2 separate regions of the Homo sapiens genome follow, and region 2 is linked to region 1. The links come from fine-mapping of genetic effects on gene expression. A gene starts in region 1. The other region holds a variant in brackets. All regions are shown on one strand. Distances are from middle to middle. Region 1 holds the start of RLIM (ring finger protein, LIM domain interacting). Region 2 overlaps SLC16A2 (solute carrier family 16 member 2).

Evidence for each region. PIP is the estimated chance that this variant, and not a neighbour inherited with it, causes the effect.
Region 2: its variant is fine-mapped to the expression of RLIM in whole blood (TOPMed, PIP above 0.99).

What each region holds. Positions count from the first base shown.
Region 1 is chrX:74,610,613-74,619,669 of GRCh38, forward strand. RLIM (ring finger protein, LIM domain interacting) reads right to left here and starts at 4,012. Exons shown (of 4, transcript NM_016120.4): 1 at 3,810-4,012. RefSeq lists an enhancer at 3,617-3,936.
Region 2 is chrX:74,437,638-74,446,694 of GRCh38, forward strand. The region is part of intron 1 of SLC16A2 (solute carrier family 16 member 2); the gene reads left to right. Among named protein-coding and RNA genes, the nearest start is that of SLC16A2, 21 kb to the left of the region's middle. The variant T/C (reference allele first, on the strand shown) is at 3,837.

The DNA of each region.
Region 1 (9,057 bases):
CAGTCGCGGTGGCTCACGTCTGTAATCCCAGCACTTTGGGAGGCCAAGGTGGGCAGATCACAAGGTCAGGAGTTCGAGACCAGCCTGGCCAATATGGTGAAACCCCATCTTTACTAAAAATACAAAAATTAGCCAGGCGTGGTGGAGAGCGCCTGTACTCCCAGCTACTTGGGAGGCTGAGGTAAGAGAATTGCTTGAAACCAGGAGGTGGAGGTTGCAGTGAGCCGAGAGTGCACCACTGCATTCCAGCCTGGGCGACAGAGTGAGACTCCGTCTCAAAAAAATAAAAAAATAAAAAATAAATAAATAAAAATACCTCAATTGATAAAAAGAGAAATGAATTGCTGGATTATCTGGGAAACTTTCATGTTTGAGGCTGAGAAAAAAAAATGAAAGAAAAATAGATACAGAAGTGTTATTACTTTCTTATATTGGACATCAGAACTTCAATTTATTATGTAAACTAGATACTTTCTGAAATCAATGGGCCATAGGTTTTAGAAATCTTTGTGTTAAAGAAAAACCTGTCCAGTTCTAGGCAGTGGCACAAAATTCTAGGCCCTCATTGGTTTGGGTTTGACAGAAGACTTTTTATTCTCTAATTTGTCATCCACTCTATGGTAAATGAAGAGAACAGGAGGCTGGCTGGTGATTTGCTCTATTTCTAATCCACCATGGCCATGGAAAAATTAATGTACATATAATATAATTCCATAAATGCAGATGCCTCATTTGACCTACTACTATATTAAGGCTCACTACATGTTCACTAACCTCAAAGATATCCAACCAGCCTAGTATTTCCAGATCATTTAATTATTAAGCTATTTCTTAAAATCATTTCTGATTTTAAATTAAGTTTATCAAATGATATACAAGGAGCTATCCATTTAACATCTATCAATGAGCCCATCCAATTACAGGGCCTGTGAAATAGAACAATAAATATGTGTAAACATGCATAATAGCTGAAACAGGAACGTAACAGACGAAAAGGGGGGATTGCTGGATAACCTTTAAGTATTAACAAAAGTTTCTGATGCAACATAACCTACAGACTTTTTACTACAACCTTTCATTTTCATTGCATTTCCTATCTAATTAGACAGCAATCAAACCCAGAAGTATAACGTCAGACAGGCCTGGGATAAAATGAGGGCTCCACCACTTAAAGCTATTTAACTGAGGACAAATTATACTTAACCTCTTTGGGTTTTTGGTTTCCTCTATAAAAGTTAACATTCTCATGAGGCTCTGTTGTGAGAATTATAAAATAATGCATATAAAGCACATGGCCTAGCACCACAGGCCTTCAGCAGAAGTTGGTTATGAATTTAGGCTAAGTATCCATCCCAGTTTGTCGGGGACAATCAAGGTTTGCACCTGCTGTCCAGGAATTATTAATGTTCCTTTTGTTCTTAAAAGTGTCTTGGTTAGGCAATAAATTATGTGGTTACCCTAATGATGATGATAATAATAATGAAAGGAGTCAATATCAATTAAAAGTATCATGTATCAATTATGAATTTTTGAATCTTAAAGGAAAAAAATCAACCACCACACACAAAGTAACGTAAAATTATACTCTCGTAAGCTATTCTGATATTTCATTTAGTTATCCAATGAACATTTAAATGTTATTTTACTTATACTCATGCCATTCCAACAATGATATAAGACAACAAATTTTTTGTTGTTGTTGTTCTATACAGGTATTGGTAAACTTCAGACATTATTTTAAAGAGTCAAATTCACAGATAAAGCACTGGTGAGTTCCAGGTATCCAGAAACATTACCCTTTTAATTCCCAGTGAAAAGTACCCATTCTTATCATGAAGAATACCCAACACCATCTAACATCTATCAATGAGCCCATCCAATTACAGGGCCTGCAAAATAGAACAATAAATATTTGTAAACATGCATTCTACACATAAATCATCAGGAGACGCAACAAAAAATAAATTACCTGACTGTTATGACATAGTATTGAAATACAATAAACTGGATTTTAGTTTTCTTCACTCTGCTCTAGAAAAAAAAAGAATCCATTATTCTTCCTCTTTAAAAAGATACACATTTTCTTTGAATTAGACACAACCTAAAAAAAAAAATACAGACACACCATAACCCAACCTAATTCAATATTAGTATTAGGGCATTTGGGGAGAGCAAGAAGGTCAGAGGGGACCAGGAGTTAGATAAAAGATGTCTTCTAAGACTGAGAGACAATTTACGTTTTATTATAAGCTTGCTTAAAATAAGCCTTTCCTTATCAGACCAGTAATTATTTTCAGATTCTGATAGTCACTTTCAAGGACTTATCTGGCACATTACACTAGCCTAAGGTAGGAACTAAAGTATTAAAATTCATCAGAACATCATGGACTAAAAAAATCTTTGTAACATTTTTCAGTAAGTGGAGTGTGTCCTAAAATCAAGTTTTAAAAAGTGGATTGGTCTTTCTAGCTACCTAAGCTATATTTCTACAGTTTAGAAAAGTCATGGGGGGGGAGGGGTTATAATTGTGCCAGTCCTCCAGGGAAGATACAATGTACTTAATGGGGTGATAAGTAGTTACTCTGTCTATAATCACGAAGAATGAAAGAAATGATTAGTAGCAGTAGGTTTATTATTTCTTCCCCCTTTCAATCAGTCCAAAACACTGCGGTTAATTCTGATTCAGGAAATGCGGGCTCCTTACTTCTGGCAAAAAATCATTGTGGGGTCTTGCAAATGGAAGATGACAATCTGATACAACTGCTTCCTCTTGCCCCAAAATGAAAAAAAAAATGACCTCAATAACAAGACTGCTAGGCCTCAGATTCCCAGACTAACCTGTGGAATAAGTATGGTGAAACTGTCTAGGGAAGGAACGTGGCTGTCTCCTCCATCTTGAAATTAATCAGCATAAGGGAAAAAGGGACCGAGTATTCAGGAAGCAGAAGCCCAACCGGTTAATACTAGTTACTAAGCTATGGCATGCGTGGCAGGTACCGTCTGCAGAAGCAGAGACCCCCCTAGGCTTTTTTTTTTTTTTTTAATGGGGGAGGGATTGAGTTGTTGGTGGATTAAACACAAATTAACTTGAAAATTTGGCCCAATTCCATCCCTTATCCAGGAGAACACAACAAACACCTAACGGCTTTTCCCTCTCTTTTGCGGGGGGATCCTTCCAGTGATACCTGGCAAAGGATATGCCAGGGTTATTCGAGCAAGGGAGTAAACCACATTTGCCTCAGATCCTCAGGGAAGATGTCATCGCGGCCCCAGGGGGCGCCTAATTGGTAATACCCTGCAGAAGGGCTCAAAATGAGGTTTTGGAAATCTAAAGGCCCAAGAGTTGCCAGCATCTCACTTGGGGCAGCCTGATTTTTTACTTCCCTTTTCCCAAACCCAAGCCCGCCATGGAAAACGCGGGGAGGTCAGGGAAGCCTCCAGAGAACAGAGAAGAAAAAGCCTGAGACGTTCTAAGATTCTGACGCCTGAGGCCAAAACTCAAAAACTGCCTCCCCCGATTTCCTAAGGCTCCGGAGGGCCTGGGCTGCAGCTCGCGCGGCCACCGAGAGGAAGTACTACCCACCTCCTTCCCCTTCAAAGAGCCTGTCGACTATACCACTCAACTAAAATGGCAGCGGCGACTACGCCACGGAGCCCCCCGCAGCAACGGGCCTGGGGTCCGGAGGCGGCGCTGAGCCTCTGCCACGACGCGTCACTCGGGCCATTTTGAGAGAACGCGGCAGCCGCGGCTCCGCTGTCTTCCTCTCGCTCTACATCATTTCTCACAGGATTCCCAAGTCTTCACTTACTAGGTTTTAGGGTCAGGATCCGACTCGGTTGGTTCGGCCGCCGCCGCCGAGGCTGCTCCGCACCTCCCTGGCCGCCGCTCTCAAGCCCGCCTCCAATGAGTAGCTGGTTGAGACCCGCCTCTAGCCCAGCGCCTGCTCGGAGACGTTGCTCAGGCAGCCATTATCTTCCCCATTGTTACCAAGCAGCGACAGGAAACGACTGCCCACAACAGGAAGTGATGATGCCGCGTCCCGGCACCGCAGCCCCACTCCCAGCCTATTAGCCAATCCCAGTCGATTCCTCGAAAAGGCTCCGCGGGAGGAGGAGGGGGACGGCAGACGACGCGGCAAGGCGGGCGGCGGTTTGGAAAAGGAAAGCTGTTATGACGCCCACCATGTGACAGGCCCCACCCTCCTCCGCCATTTTGAATTGTGGCGAGAAATTTGCGTTCTGAGAATTGTGGGAACCTTCGCTTTCCCATTTTGAAAACTGAAGGACGTCACGGTCTGACTGCTTGAAGACATTTTCAGAGAGAGAGAAATGTGATATTAGTCTACCCTGACATCACATCAGTTCACACAATCCGTGCAGACCAGTTCAAAAAGTAGCCTGCGTTTTATTCAACATGTATTTACACAGTGCCAACTGCATGTCAAGCACCATTGTAGCTGCTTAGGAAATTAAAATAGACCAAAATTAAGAAAGAAAACAGGCCACGTTCGGTGGCTCACGCCTGTAATCCCAGCACTTTGGGAAGCCGAAGCGGGCGGATCACCTGAGGTCAGGAGTTCGAGACCAGCCTGGCCAACATGGTGAAACCCAGTCTCTACTAAAAATACGAAAATTAGCCGGGCGTGGTGGCGGGCGCCTGTAATCTCTGCTAATCGGGAGGCTGAGGCAGGAGAATAGCTGAACCCAGGAGGCGAAGATTGCAGTGAGCCGGGATCTCGCCACTGCACTCTAGCCTGGGTGACAGAGCAAGGCTGTGTCTCAAAAAAAAAAAAAAAAAAAAAAAGAAAACAGATCAAAATCCCAGTTCTCTTGAGTCTTTATAGGGGCCAGGGACAATAATTTAGAAAAAATCAAACATAAATACATATCATGTTAGTGATAAATGCCAAGGAGAAAAATCAAGGAAGGGGGACAGAAGAGTTCCTTGTAGGGACAAACGGATTCGTGATGTTTAAAAGACTGATAACTTTGAGGCATTAACTCTAAAGTATTCGAAAAAGGGCGGTGATTGTAAAAGGGTGGGAAAATCTGATAACGTTGGGATTTGTAAAAGGGCAGTTAAAGAAGGCCTTTCTTAGGTAGTAATGCCTGAAAGAATTGAGGGAACTCGCCACACAGCATGCCACTCCCATTGTCACAGTTAAAGGAAAACCTTACCCAAGTTTTTAGATTCTTTTCCTTTTCCCAATTTTTCTGTTTTCCAATAGCATGCCAGCTATGCTGGCTTTGTTACGGTTTTTCCAACAAAGCTAACTTCTTCCTACTTCAACTACTTTACCTTTGCTGGAATATTTTACTTTCATATCTTTGCTTTCATCATCCAAGCCTCGCAATTATTAACTTCCTAGAGAAGCCTTCCCTGACCACCCTACCTAAAATAACTTCTTCCTGAAGGCGGAAAAAGGTCTGAGGAAAAAAAAAAAAAGAAAAAAGTAATAACGACTTCTCCCATCTCCTTACCTGCTTACTTTTCTTGTAAAACACTTAATCTGAAAGTAAGTTATTTATTTGTTTGTTTACTTCACCCTTTCTGAGCAGTAAACCTCTCTGTTTTGTTCACTGTTGTGTCCCCAGCGACCACATAGTAAGCCCTCAAAATACTTTGGGAGAATTACCCCCTCACCATGATGGATGTTATATCAGCCTGGAATATAAGTATTTCACTCCAAGCAGTTAAAACAATATCCCTCATACTTACCTGCCCAACTCCCTAGAAGACTCATTGATATTGTCATTTTTGGCAGAGGGATACATGATTTAGGCGCTGTGTCTCTACTCAGGTTTTTGTCTTATTTTACATAATCATGTACTAGAACGATTACCTAGAACGTGTAAAAGGAATTCTTCAGTAGCCTGCAATTGCCATTAAGCCTGATATTCTGATTATGGCAATAACATTAGCCACTCCTTAACGTATTCTTGAGGCTTATGTGGCTTAATCTAAAATATAAAATCATAAAAGAAGTGGAAGAAAATACAGGTTACTATTTCTGTCCTTTCTTCCTTCCTTCCTTCCTTCCTTCCTTCCTTCCTTCCTTCCTTCCTTCCTTCTTTCTTTCTTTTTTTTTTTTGATGGAGTCTTGCTTTGTTGCCCAGGCTGGAGTCCAGTGGCATGATCTCAGCTCACTGCAACCTCCGTCTCCTGGGTTCAAGCGATTCTCCTACCTCAGCCTCCCCAGTAGCTGGGATTGCAGGCATGCACCACCACGCCTGGCTAATTTTTGTATTTTTAGTAGAGATGAGGTTTCACCATGTTGGGCAGCCTGGTCTCCAACTCCTGACTTCATGATCCGCCTGCCTGGGCCTCCCAAAGTGTTGGGATTACAGGCGTGAGCCACTGTCCAGGCCTAGGTTAATATTTCTATAGCCTTGGGGATGCAGAAGCACTTTTGAAATACAACACAAAATCCATAATGGGAAAGACTAATAAGTACAACTTCATAAATAAAAGTAAACCTTCTAAATGTCAAAATACAAGGTTGGTAAAGTTAAAAGACAAATGATAAATTGAAAAAAATCATTTCATAATGACATATTAGAGCCAAGGGGTAATATCTTTACTTAATAAAAAGACGAAACACTAGCAAAAATGTTACATATGTGATAAACACATATGGCTAATATCAGCCTATAAAGAGTTGTTAAACATTGATTTTTAAAAAGATAAATACCGGCCGGGCGCAGGGGCTCACACCTGTAATCCCAGCACTTTGGGAGGCCAAGGCAGGCGGATCACAAGGTCAGGAGATCAAGACCAGCCTGGCCAATATGGTGAAACCCCGTCTCTACTAAAAAAAATACAAAAATTAGCTGGGCGTGGTGGCGTACTCACTCCTGTAGTCCCAGCTACTTGGGAGGCTGAGGAAAAGGAATTGATTGAACCCGGGAGGCAGAGGTTGGAGTGAGCCGAGATCATGCCACTGCACTCCAGCCTGGGTAACAGCAAGACTGCATCTCAAAAAAAAAAAAAAAAAAAAAAGAGATAAATACCTCCATTTCAAAATGTGCAAGGAACATGAATGGATAATTCATAAAAGGATAAAACACGTGGCTGATAAGCATATGACAATATATTCTTTTTTTCTTGTTAGTAAATAACCTTGTACTTGAAAATATATTCAGCCTCACTAGTAATTAATCAAAAATAAAAACAATGAGGTACAACTATTATGTATCCATAATAATTAAAAAACAATAGCTGGGTTCGGTGGCTCACGCCTGTAATCCCAGCACTTTGGGAGGCTGAGGCGGGTGGATTGCCTGAGGTCAGGAGTTTGAGACCAGCCTGGCCAACATGGTGAAACCCCGTATCTACTAAAACTTCAGAAAAAAAATTAGTTGGGCGTGGTGGTGGGCACCTATAATCCCAGCTACTCGGGAGGCTGAGGCAGGAGAATCGCTTGAACCGGGAGGCAGAGGTTGCAGTGAGCCGAGATTGCGACATTGCACTCCAGCCTGGGCAACAAGAGTGAAACTCTGTCTCAAAAAAACAAAACAGAAAAATTTTATGAACTAAAAAATTTTTTAAAAAGTTCCTTTTTTTGCCTGTTAGAATGTCAAGGATAAAAAATCGATAATATTAATTGTTGATGAAGATCCTATGAAATGGGCACATTTGTATTGCCAGTGGGACAAATTGATATCAGTTTTCTTTTTTTTTTTTTTTTTGAGACAGAGTCTCACTCTGTCACCAGGCTGGAGTGCAGTGGCGCAATGTCGGCTCACCGCAACCTCCACCTCCTGGGTGCAAGCAATTCTCCTGCCTCAGCCCCCCGAGTAGCTGGGATTACAGGCGTGCGCCACCACACCCAGCTAATTTTTGTAGTTTTATTAGAGACGGATTTTCGCCATGTTGGATAGGATGGTCTCGATCTCTTGACCTTGTGATCCGCCCACCTCAGCCTCCCAAAGTGCTGGGATTACAGGCATGAGCCACCACTCCCAGTTTTCTTAAGGCAATTTGGTAATGTGTTTCAAAAGACTCATATTCATAGTATTTGACAAACATGTCCAGGTACAGAAATTTATTTTAAGGAAAGAAGTGGACAAATTTGCAAATATGTATGTAATGAATGTGCAAAGATGCTAATTACAGTGTGGTTTATAACATCGAAATATTGACAAATCAGAAAAAATAACCATCCAACAACAATTAGTTATAGTATAACCACATAATAGACTACCATGTAGCATTAAAAATAAGTACCTAGAGCTGGAAATACGTTCAGGTTACTTTTTTTTTTTTTTTTTTTGAGACGGAGTCTCACTCTGTCACCCAGGCTGGAGTGCAGTGGCACAATCTCGGCTAACTGCAACCTCCACCTCCTGGTTTCAAGCGATTCTCCTGCCTCAGCCTCCTGAGTAGCTGGGACTACAGGCTCGTGCCACCACGCCCAGCTAATTTTTGTATTTTGAGTAGAGACGAGGTTTCACCATGTTGGCCTGGCTGGTCTCCAGCTTTTGACCTCGAGTGATCCACCCACCTCTGCCTCCCAAAGTGCTGGGATTCCAGGCATGAGCCACCGTGTCCGGCCTCAGGTTACGTTTTTAATGAAAAAAGCGATTTACAATACAGCTTGTGTGACTCCATTTTTATTTAAAAGATATGTATAAATATGCCTAGAAAAAAGCCTAGATGAGCATACATTTTTAGTCACTTTTATGTTCTTTTTTTTTTTTTTTTTGAGATGGAGTCTCACTCTGTCACCCAGGCTGGAGGGCAGTGGCATGATCTCGACTCACTGCAACCTCTGCCTCCCGGGTTCAAGCGATTCTCATGCCTCAGCCTCCTGAGTAGCTGGGATTACAGGCGCCCGCCACCATGCCCGACTAATTTTTGTATTTTTAGTAGAGATGGGGGTTTCACCATGTTGGCCAGGCTGGTCTTGAACTCCTGACCTCAGGTGATCCACCTGCTTCGGCCTCCCAAAGTGCTGGGATTACAGGCATAAGCCACCGCTCAGGGACCATTTTTATGTTCTTTACCCCTTTCAGTATTGTCTTCAACATTTTACAATGTGCATTATTACTTGGTAT
Region 2 (9,057 bases), 170 kb before region 1:
ATAACGGAGGTCAGCAGGACTCCAGACAGGTTTATTTGCTGCCTTCCTCACAGAATATCTCAAACATGGAAAGCTCAGGTGAAACCGGTCAGACCAGATGTTGAGAAACTGCAGCTTTTAGGAAGAGAAGACAGATAGATCCACAGGCAGCAAGAAGAGAGAATAGGGAGGTAAAAAACCTATTGTTCCAGCTCCTAATCACAGGACCCCCACCCTCATCACACACCTATGGGCTCCAGCATATCACTTGCTCAAGAAGGCAATGGCTCATCTGTGTCCCATGAGTGGATCTGCTTATTATCTCCACGTAAGACCACCCAACCTAAAGGCTACTTTCCAGGCCATAGCTCAACAGAGACTAACATTTGCCTTGAGGCTCTCTTTTTAAAAATGGAATCTGTTTTTAGCACTAAAGGAAAAGATAGCCTTGGAGTGGGAAGTCACAAAGAAGACCCCAAAGTTCAACTCTCCTTTGCCTCACTTTTCCACATGCTTTGTAGTATAGGGTAAGGCACAGGATCTTATAACAGACAGACCAGTGTTAGAGTCCTGGATTTGCCATTTACCTGATCTGCAATCTTGACCAAGTCTGAGCTTCACTCCCTATCTGTAAAAAAGGGGCAGTGGGAGCATCATAATCCCTACCTCACAGTCTTACGATAAGGTTCAAATGAAAAGATGGATGTGAAAGCCCTTTGAAAACAGCTTTGCATTATCATCATGATTACCACATACATAAGTTTATCTATAGACTTGCACATGTGCTTATGCACGTATAGCCAGATTGATATACCACCCATGATGCACACGTGTATAAGCAACCACTTATATGTACAAAACTACACATACATCTGATCTTAAGCCTGAACTCATGACACAGACAATTAAAAGTGCATACACATACACATTTATCCACATGGATATACTTTCTCCTTCTCTCACACACGTACACCCACACAAGCAAATGTATATGTATCTCTGTAAGTGTGTGCATGCATATGTGTGTACATCTATAGCCTCATAGCTGTACAGGTGAGCATACCATACCCTTCAGTTTCTGCCTAGATAATCCAGTTTTCCGGGGGTCTGACAAAGGCCCTGTTTGTAAATTCCTCCACTTGATACTGATAATGTCCCTTTTGCCCTTGCTGAGGCTTCTTCTCTGTCTCCACCTTGTTTGCAGAGTAGCACAGCTGCTGCAAAAATTCAAGCTGCAGTATGTGACATACACATGTCTGGAGAACATGGATCCTTGTCCAGTTGCTCTTTGAATAGCACTACGACTCTAGCCTGCACAGCATATTTATAGCCATGTTTGCAAAGAGCTGACAGCATTTTCAGACTTTTTTCAAAACGTAGTTAATCCAGCCACAAAAATAGTCACTGGCCCATATGCCCCAAAGCTAAAAGAAATTGGGCAGCGTGCCTAATGAAAATTAGTCACAGAGCCTAAATGAAGTTGAAGTTGAATCAAACTCTCTCTCTCCCTCTCATTCTCTCTCTCTCTCTGGCTTGCTCAACTCTTTCTTTCTTTCTTTCTTTCTTTCTTTTTCTTTCTTTCTTTCTTTCTTCCTTCCTTCCTTTCTCTCTCTCTCTCTTTCTTTCTTTCTTTCTTCTCTCTTTCTCTCTCCCTTCCTTCCTCCCTCCCTTCCTTCCTTCCTTCCTTTCTTCCTTTCTTTCTTTTTTTTTTGAGACAGGGCCTCACTCTGTTGCCCAGGCTGGAGTGCAGAGGTGTGATCATGGTTCACTGCAGCCTTGATCACCTGGGCTCAGGTGATTCTTCCACCTCAGCCTCCTTGTGTAGCTGGGACTACAGACATGCACCACCAGGCCCGGCTAATTTTTTTTTTTTTTTTTTGTAGAGATGAGGTCTCACTGGTCTCAAACTCTTAGGCTCAAGTGATCCTCCTGCCTCAACCTCCCAAAGTGTTGGGATTACAGGTGTCACCCACCACACCCAGCCTCACTCTTGCGCTTTCTCTCTCTCTCTTTTCCCTTCCTGCCCTCTCTTTGCCACTGCTTTTTATTCTAAGGATCTCTAAGCCTAGGGTATGTGTGGTGGGGGAGTGGGGGGTGGTACCATGAAGTATATTTGCTTCAAAGAGGTCCTGGGGTCATTAGAGCCTAAGGTTTTGGAGAGACAGGGAGGAGGAAGAGGGAAAGAAGAGGGAAAAGTGAGGGTATTGAGGTTTATAAGCAAGAGGAACATAGTTGGGGAATTAAATGAGGTGAGACAAAAAGGAGAAAAGTTACGCCCACTTTGAGGCCAACTAGAATTTTGGTGGCTGGATAACTTCTCAAATCAAATGGCAGAGTCCTTCAGCCTCCCCTCAATCACTAGAATGTAGGCTAGAAAATTGTTTTGCTTATTTGCAAGGTTGGAACAAAAAAGAATTCCTAGTGATAGAGTTGAAGAGTTAAGCATGGTTAGAGGAGAGCAAGATGGTTTCTCAGGAAGAGAGAGGCCTGGGCTTTATGTAATGGGCTCATCTTAGGTGGCCCAGCCATGACCAGGGTGAGGAGGGTTTTAGAGAGGGAGTAGGGTTATCATATCATTTATTGTCCAAATTGGGACACTTTTGAGGGTGAAAGAGAACTCTATTAACATTTTTGTTGGAACCACAGGCATAAACTAGAATTGTCCCAGGAAAACCAAGATGTGTGTTCATTGTAAGTTTAGAACAAATCGCTCCAGCTTGCCGGGAAAGGGCAAACTATAAGGGCTCCTCACAAGATGTCTTTAAAAAAGGTGTGTATGTGTTCTGTTTTGTTTGTGTGTGTGTATGTGTGTGTGTGTTGGTTTGGGCAGTAGAGAGTAGGGCAGGGAGATTATTCAGCCTTTTCAGCCTTGGGACTGGAGATTGTTTACTCTGAATATAAATTCCTTTTTTTTTTTTTTTTTTTTTGCTGCTGTACATAAATATGTAATGGAGCTCTTAGCCAAGCGTGTTTATTTCCTGGTCAACTTCAGAAGAGAAGAGAGAGAGAGTCAATTGTGGTGTGTGGTTTTGTGTATTGTGTGTATGTGTTTGTGTCAAAGCTGTGGAAAGTATGTATGTGTGTGAGTGGAATTTTAAGTATATCCAACTGTGTGTAACTATGGGCATGCATGTAGGTGTGGATGTGTGTGGACGTGAACACGGATGTGGTAAGAATAAATGAGGGTGTGTGTGTGTGTGTGTGTGCACGCGCATGCATGAGCATGGATAGGGTAGAGTCAGGTCTGACCTCTGGTTCACTGAGTTGTGAACTCCTTAACTTTCAAGGAGCAATCACATAGACGACCACTTTATTTTACACGTGAGGAAAAAGGCATGTGTAACGAGACCTACACACTTTGTTTTTTGTGAGAGGGAGTCTGTCTCTGTCGCCCAGGCTGGAGTGCAGTGGCGCCATCTCGGCTCACTGCAAGCTCCGCCTCCTGGATTTTTTTTTTTTTAGACGGAGTCTGTCTCTGTCGCCCAGGCTAGAGTGCAGTGACACGATCTCGGCTCACGGCAAGCTCCGCCTCCCCGGTTCACGCCATTCTCCTGCCTCAGCCTCCCGAATAGCTGGGATTACAGGCGTCCACCACCATGCCCAGCTAATTTTTGTATTTTTAGTAGAGACGGGGTTTCACCATGTTGGCCAGGCTGGTCTCGAACTCCTGACCTCAAGGTAATCCACCTGCCTTGGCCTCCCAAAGTGCTGGGAATACAGGCATGAGCCACCGCACCAGGCAGAGACCTACACACTTTTACAATTTGCTTGGCAGTGATTGAGAGTATACTAGCAGCAGTCACAATAATCCTGATTGGGAACCAGCTGCTAATCCATGCATTGGAATAAAAGCCCAG[T/C]ATTTATTTAAGGTTTCTGCAAACAATGGGTGCTTGTCAAGGTGGGTTGAGGGAGCTGCCTAAGAGTAAGCTTGAGGTGTCTGTAGGCCTAGACTTGAGCAGAAGGAGATTTGACAAATGGCTGATCCACCAGACCTGTCTCCCTGAAGGACCATGTCCAACAGTGGAAACTTTCCAGGGCTTTGAATATGTTCAACTTCCCACCTCTCCAACCCCACCACCTAGAGATGTGGTTTGCCTTGGAGACAAACCTTGATCTCTATTAGAGATCCACTAGAGGCCTTCACAGGATGTAGGCCAGACATAAGCTGAAAGTGTCCCCAGACTGGGCAATAAGAGACAGGAAAGCCTCCCCCTCACCCCCAGTCTCTGACCTTCCTGTACCTGCCCTTATCACTTCAGGTTCTGGGGCAGGGGAAATGGCTAGAGATGCCCCAGGAGTGTCAGGACTGGCTGTTGAAATGGGAATTTGCAGCCGGGTGCCATGGCTTATGCCTGTAATCTCAGCACTTTGGGAGGCCGAGGCGGGTGGATCACCTGAGGTTGGGAGTTGAAGACCAGCCTGACCAACATGGAGGAACCCCGTCTCTACTAGAAACACAAAATTAGCCAGACGTGGTGGCGCATTCCTGTAATCCCAGCTACTCGGGAGGCTGAGGCAGGAGAATCGCTTGAACCCAGGAGGCAGAGGTTGCCGTGAGCCGAGATCACGCCATTGCACTCCAGCCTGAGCAACAAGACTGAAACTCCGTCTCAAAAAAAAAAAAAAAAAAAAAGAAATGGGAATTTGTGCCCCCAGGAGAAGGGTGGGTGTCAGCCATTAGTCTCATTAGCGTTGGCCGAGGAATTGGTCATGCAAGTTAGGGTAGCCCATTGCTAATGAAGCTAAAATCCAAAACCACTGTTCTTTTCTCATCTGAACAAATTCATCTTGCTTGAACCTCTGTTTGGGCTGTACCCATTTGTCTGACCAGTCACACAAAAGATGAGACAAAAGAGTGTGGGATGCTGCAGCATAGCTCTGAGAAAACAGTCCAGGTCTCATGTCCTAGTGATAAACCAGTTCAGGTTCAGCCAATATTTATTGAGCATTTACTATGTACCTAACATGATGTTAGACTTTTACAAGTATTAATTATTTCATTGAATCCTTACAATAGCCCTGTGAAGTAGGATTAGTCCCATTAAGACCCTCCAAGAGGTCCAGGCGCAGTGGCTCACGCCTGTAATCCCAGCACTTTGGGAGGCCAAGGCGGGTGGATCATGAGGTCGGGAATTTAAGACCAGCCTGGCCAATATGGTGAAAGCCCATCTCTACTAAAAATACAAAAAAATTAGCCAGGCCTGGTGGCACACGCATGTAGTCCCAGCTATTCGGGAGGCTGAGGCAGGAGAATCACTTGAACCCAGGAGGCGGAGGTTGCAGTGAGCCGAGATTGTGCCACTGCACTCCATCCTGGGCAATAGAGGGAGACTTCGTCCAAAAAAAATGACACTCCAAGAGGTGAAGTGGCTTGCTCAAAGTAAAACAGCTAGGAGTGGGGAAGTGAGAATTCAGTCTTAACTCTGCTTGACAAAAAGAAATTATTGAGAACCTACTGCATGCTAGACATTATGCTAAAATGTTTCCATGGGTTATCTCACTTAGGCCTCAAAATAGCTTTATGAGGGGATATTCCTCCCTTTTTTTTCACACATTAGAGTATTGAGGAACAGAAATGTTAAGTGACTCATCCAAGGTCAAGTGCTAGTATTCACAGTAGATCCAGGATTCAACTACAGACCTGTGACTCTCAAGCCGAGGGTCATCTCTTCCCTGCTCCTCTGTGGATATCTGATTCCATATCTAGATGATTCCTAAGGCCCCTTCCAGCTTTGACATTCCAGAGGTCAGCAACTCTATGGTAATCCTTCCCCATGAACTCGAGCAGCCTCGGGTCCCTTGGCTGTAATCTGCCATTCTCTCCTCCCCACTAGGCTCTCTCCATGTGTGGTGCAGAAAAAGAGTGGGTGAGTGACCCCCAGTCAGCTCGGGCTGAGTTGGCCCGGGGCTCTGACTCAGCTGCCTCACTCCTGGCTCCAGGTCTCAGGTGAGGTACTTTCTGTAACAGTATCCAGAAGGTGCTCTGGGTTCTAGGCCTGGGCCCTGTAACTCTCCGCCTCCTGAGAAAAACAGGAAATATCTCTTTAAATTGGCAAATAAGAAATTCCTGCAAAATGGGCTCAGGGAAGCCACTCCATTCCTTGTGTGATTGTGCCTGTGTTTGTGTGCGTCCTTCTCTGAGTGCATGATACAGCTAGGAGGAGTTGCAGACAGAGGCTAACCTTGATTCTGCATTGTCCACAGCCTTCCTGGGTGGGCTGAGATGAATATTTCCTTCCCTGCCCGCCCCATCATACCTTTTCCTCTTGGAAGCTGCTGATGGATTTTCTATCCCCTTCTGCATCTTGAGCAGAAGAGGAAGGCAGTTTGGCTCACAGAGTAATATTATCCACAGTCTGGTACCAGGTGTGTATGTGTGTGCATGTGTGTCTGGGGGCAGGGGCAGGAGGAGGTGGTGGTATTAGGCTGGCTCCAGCAGAGCACTGCTCAGGGTCTGGAATAAGCTAAGTTGCTTGTGGAGGCAACATCTGAGGGAAAGGAGTTTCCCTGGGAGACCCCTGAGTAGCACTTAGAAAATTAATATGGGGAAGGGGCTGTGGTTCAGATACAAAAACCACTCATTCTTCATCTTCTCTTATCCTCATGCTCTCTGTATTCCCTCTCCATACTGCCTCCCTCTTCAATCCTGGCTGTCCTGGCACCATATCCTGCCCCTGACTCCTCTACCCTTGTTATTTGTTACAGGGGAAGGAGCATGCCACAAGGAATCCGAAAGCTTGGGTTCTACCACTATCTGCAAATTTTACCAATATCTCCCTCCCTCTTCAATCCTGGCTGTCCTGGCACCATATTCTGCCCCTGACTCATTTACCCTTGTTATTTGTTACAGGGGAAGCAGCATGCCACAAGGAATCCGAAAGCTTGGGTTCTACCACTATCTGCAAATTTTACCACTATCTCCCTCCCTCCCTGACTTTGGGAAAGGTGCTTTACTGCCCTGAACCTCAGTTCCCTCATTTGTAAAGACCAGCCTGTTTTTTAAAGTTTGACACAGGGTTAAATGGGAAAAATATATGGAAAAAACATCTAGGAGATTTCTGTTGCTTGTTTTGAAGATCAAATGAGAGAATGACCTGGAAATACTTGGCGAGCCCTAAAGTACTGTTCAAAAAGGAGGAGTTGTTATTGTTAATATTCCCTGCTGCCTGACTGCCCTTCCATATACACAATAATGCAAATTTGCCCAGCCTAGCTTATATCCTGTCCACCTCCACTGTTTGCTGTAAAGACGAGGTGATCATCTGCTTCTGTAATGTCTATGTCCATGACAGGGAATCACACAGGATTCTCACAGGGTCCTCTTTCCTCTTCCATGGACAAATGTAGCTGGGCTTTTCTGCACAGAAAGACCTTGTCATCACACCCACAGGAGCGGTGACAACCTCAAATCAATGCAAACCATAAGAGAGATCTATTTGGGAAGTTGCAGCTTGTCTCTGGATATTATTATTAGCCCATTATTGCAGATAAGGAAATTGAGACGCAGAGAAGTGAAGTAAAGGGCACATAAATAATAAGTGGCAAGTTCTAAGTTGCGTGTGTGTGTGTGTGCTTGCACATGTGTGCATGCATTGAGGTGGGTAGGAAGTTTTTCTGGAAGCATATGAGAGGCAAGGGATCTGGATTCGCTATTAAGATAACCATCAGTCTCCACGAATCAAATAAAACCAGGCAGCAAGCCTAATAAAAATTAAGCAATGGATCAAAAAGATACTGACTGTGCACTACCTTTCTGCCTCCTTCTCTATTCGGCTTGTGTTCCTGCAAGAAGACTTATTTCATTTCACTATATATAGCACATTTTGCTAGATGCTATGATAGGAGAGGGTCAAGGGGAGATAGAGAACGATGTCTCATGTCTGTATGTCTTATGTCTGTATGAGCAGACATACATACACTCATGCCATACTTGAATCAAGGTAGACCATGACAGATCTACCTTGATTATAAACCACTATATCTCTCCTTATGAAGCATTATACTCAATTGTTAGCTCTTACTGTTAGAGCTAACAATTGAGTATAATGCTTCATAAGGAGAGACATAGTGATTCTAGCACCTAACACAATGCACTATACATAGTCAGTGCTTGATAACTTTGTATTGAAATGAAATGAGGGCCAGGAGTGGGAGAACATGAGCTTGTTTTGGGGAAGGCATTGTGGGCAAGAGGGGCCAAGTGGTTCATGCCTCTCACTCCAGGCATGCTGGGCAAAGCCAGGATCCACTGCTGACTTCTCAGGCCTTATTTGCAAGGCTGCTTTAAAGGTGCTTTGTGTTTGGGTTTGTTTTCTGACATCATTGTTCTTAGCAACCAAGGTCAGATTTTTAGCTTTTCCTTTGACTGCTAACCATGCCCCTCTGCCTAAGAAATCCCACAGGAAGCCTCCAAGCTTCACTTTGCCTCTAGACACCTGGCAAATGACTCTCCCACTTCCTTGCCCTGTCCACAGACTCTGATGCTAGTTGCGGGTGCCAAGATTTTTTTGCCCCCTCCTCTTCCCCTGGGACCAATCAGATTTCTGAGCTCCAGGGTAGAGCCACACTCTCACTGATCCTCTGTCCAAGTCTAGAATTCCCAAAGCATGGTCTGCCTCATCTGTGCTCCAGGTGCAACTGGGCAGGATAAATTTCTCACACATTGGTCCTGTCCTTCCCTGGGAAGCCTGGCTTTCCCACTCCCACTTACCTAAGTCAATTCTCTGCTTTAAGGCTGGGCGCGGTTGCTCACATGTGTAATCCTAGGACTTTGGGAAGCTGAGGGTTGAGCCCAGTAGTTTGAGACCAGCCTGGGCAACATGGCGAAACCCCATCTCTGCAAAAAAATACAAAAATTAGCCAGGTGTGGTGGCACACGCCTGTAGTTCCACCTACTTAGGAGGCTGAGGTGGAAAGATCTCTTGAGCTGGGAGATTGAGGCTGCAGTGAGCCATGATCATACCACTGCACTCTAGCCTGGGTGACAGAGTAAGACCCTGTTTCAAAACAAACAAACAAACAAACAAACAAAACAACCAAACAAACAAACCAAAATTCTCTGCTTTATTCCCCTTCATG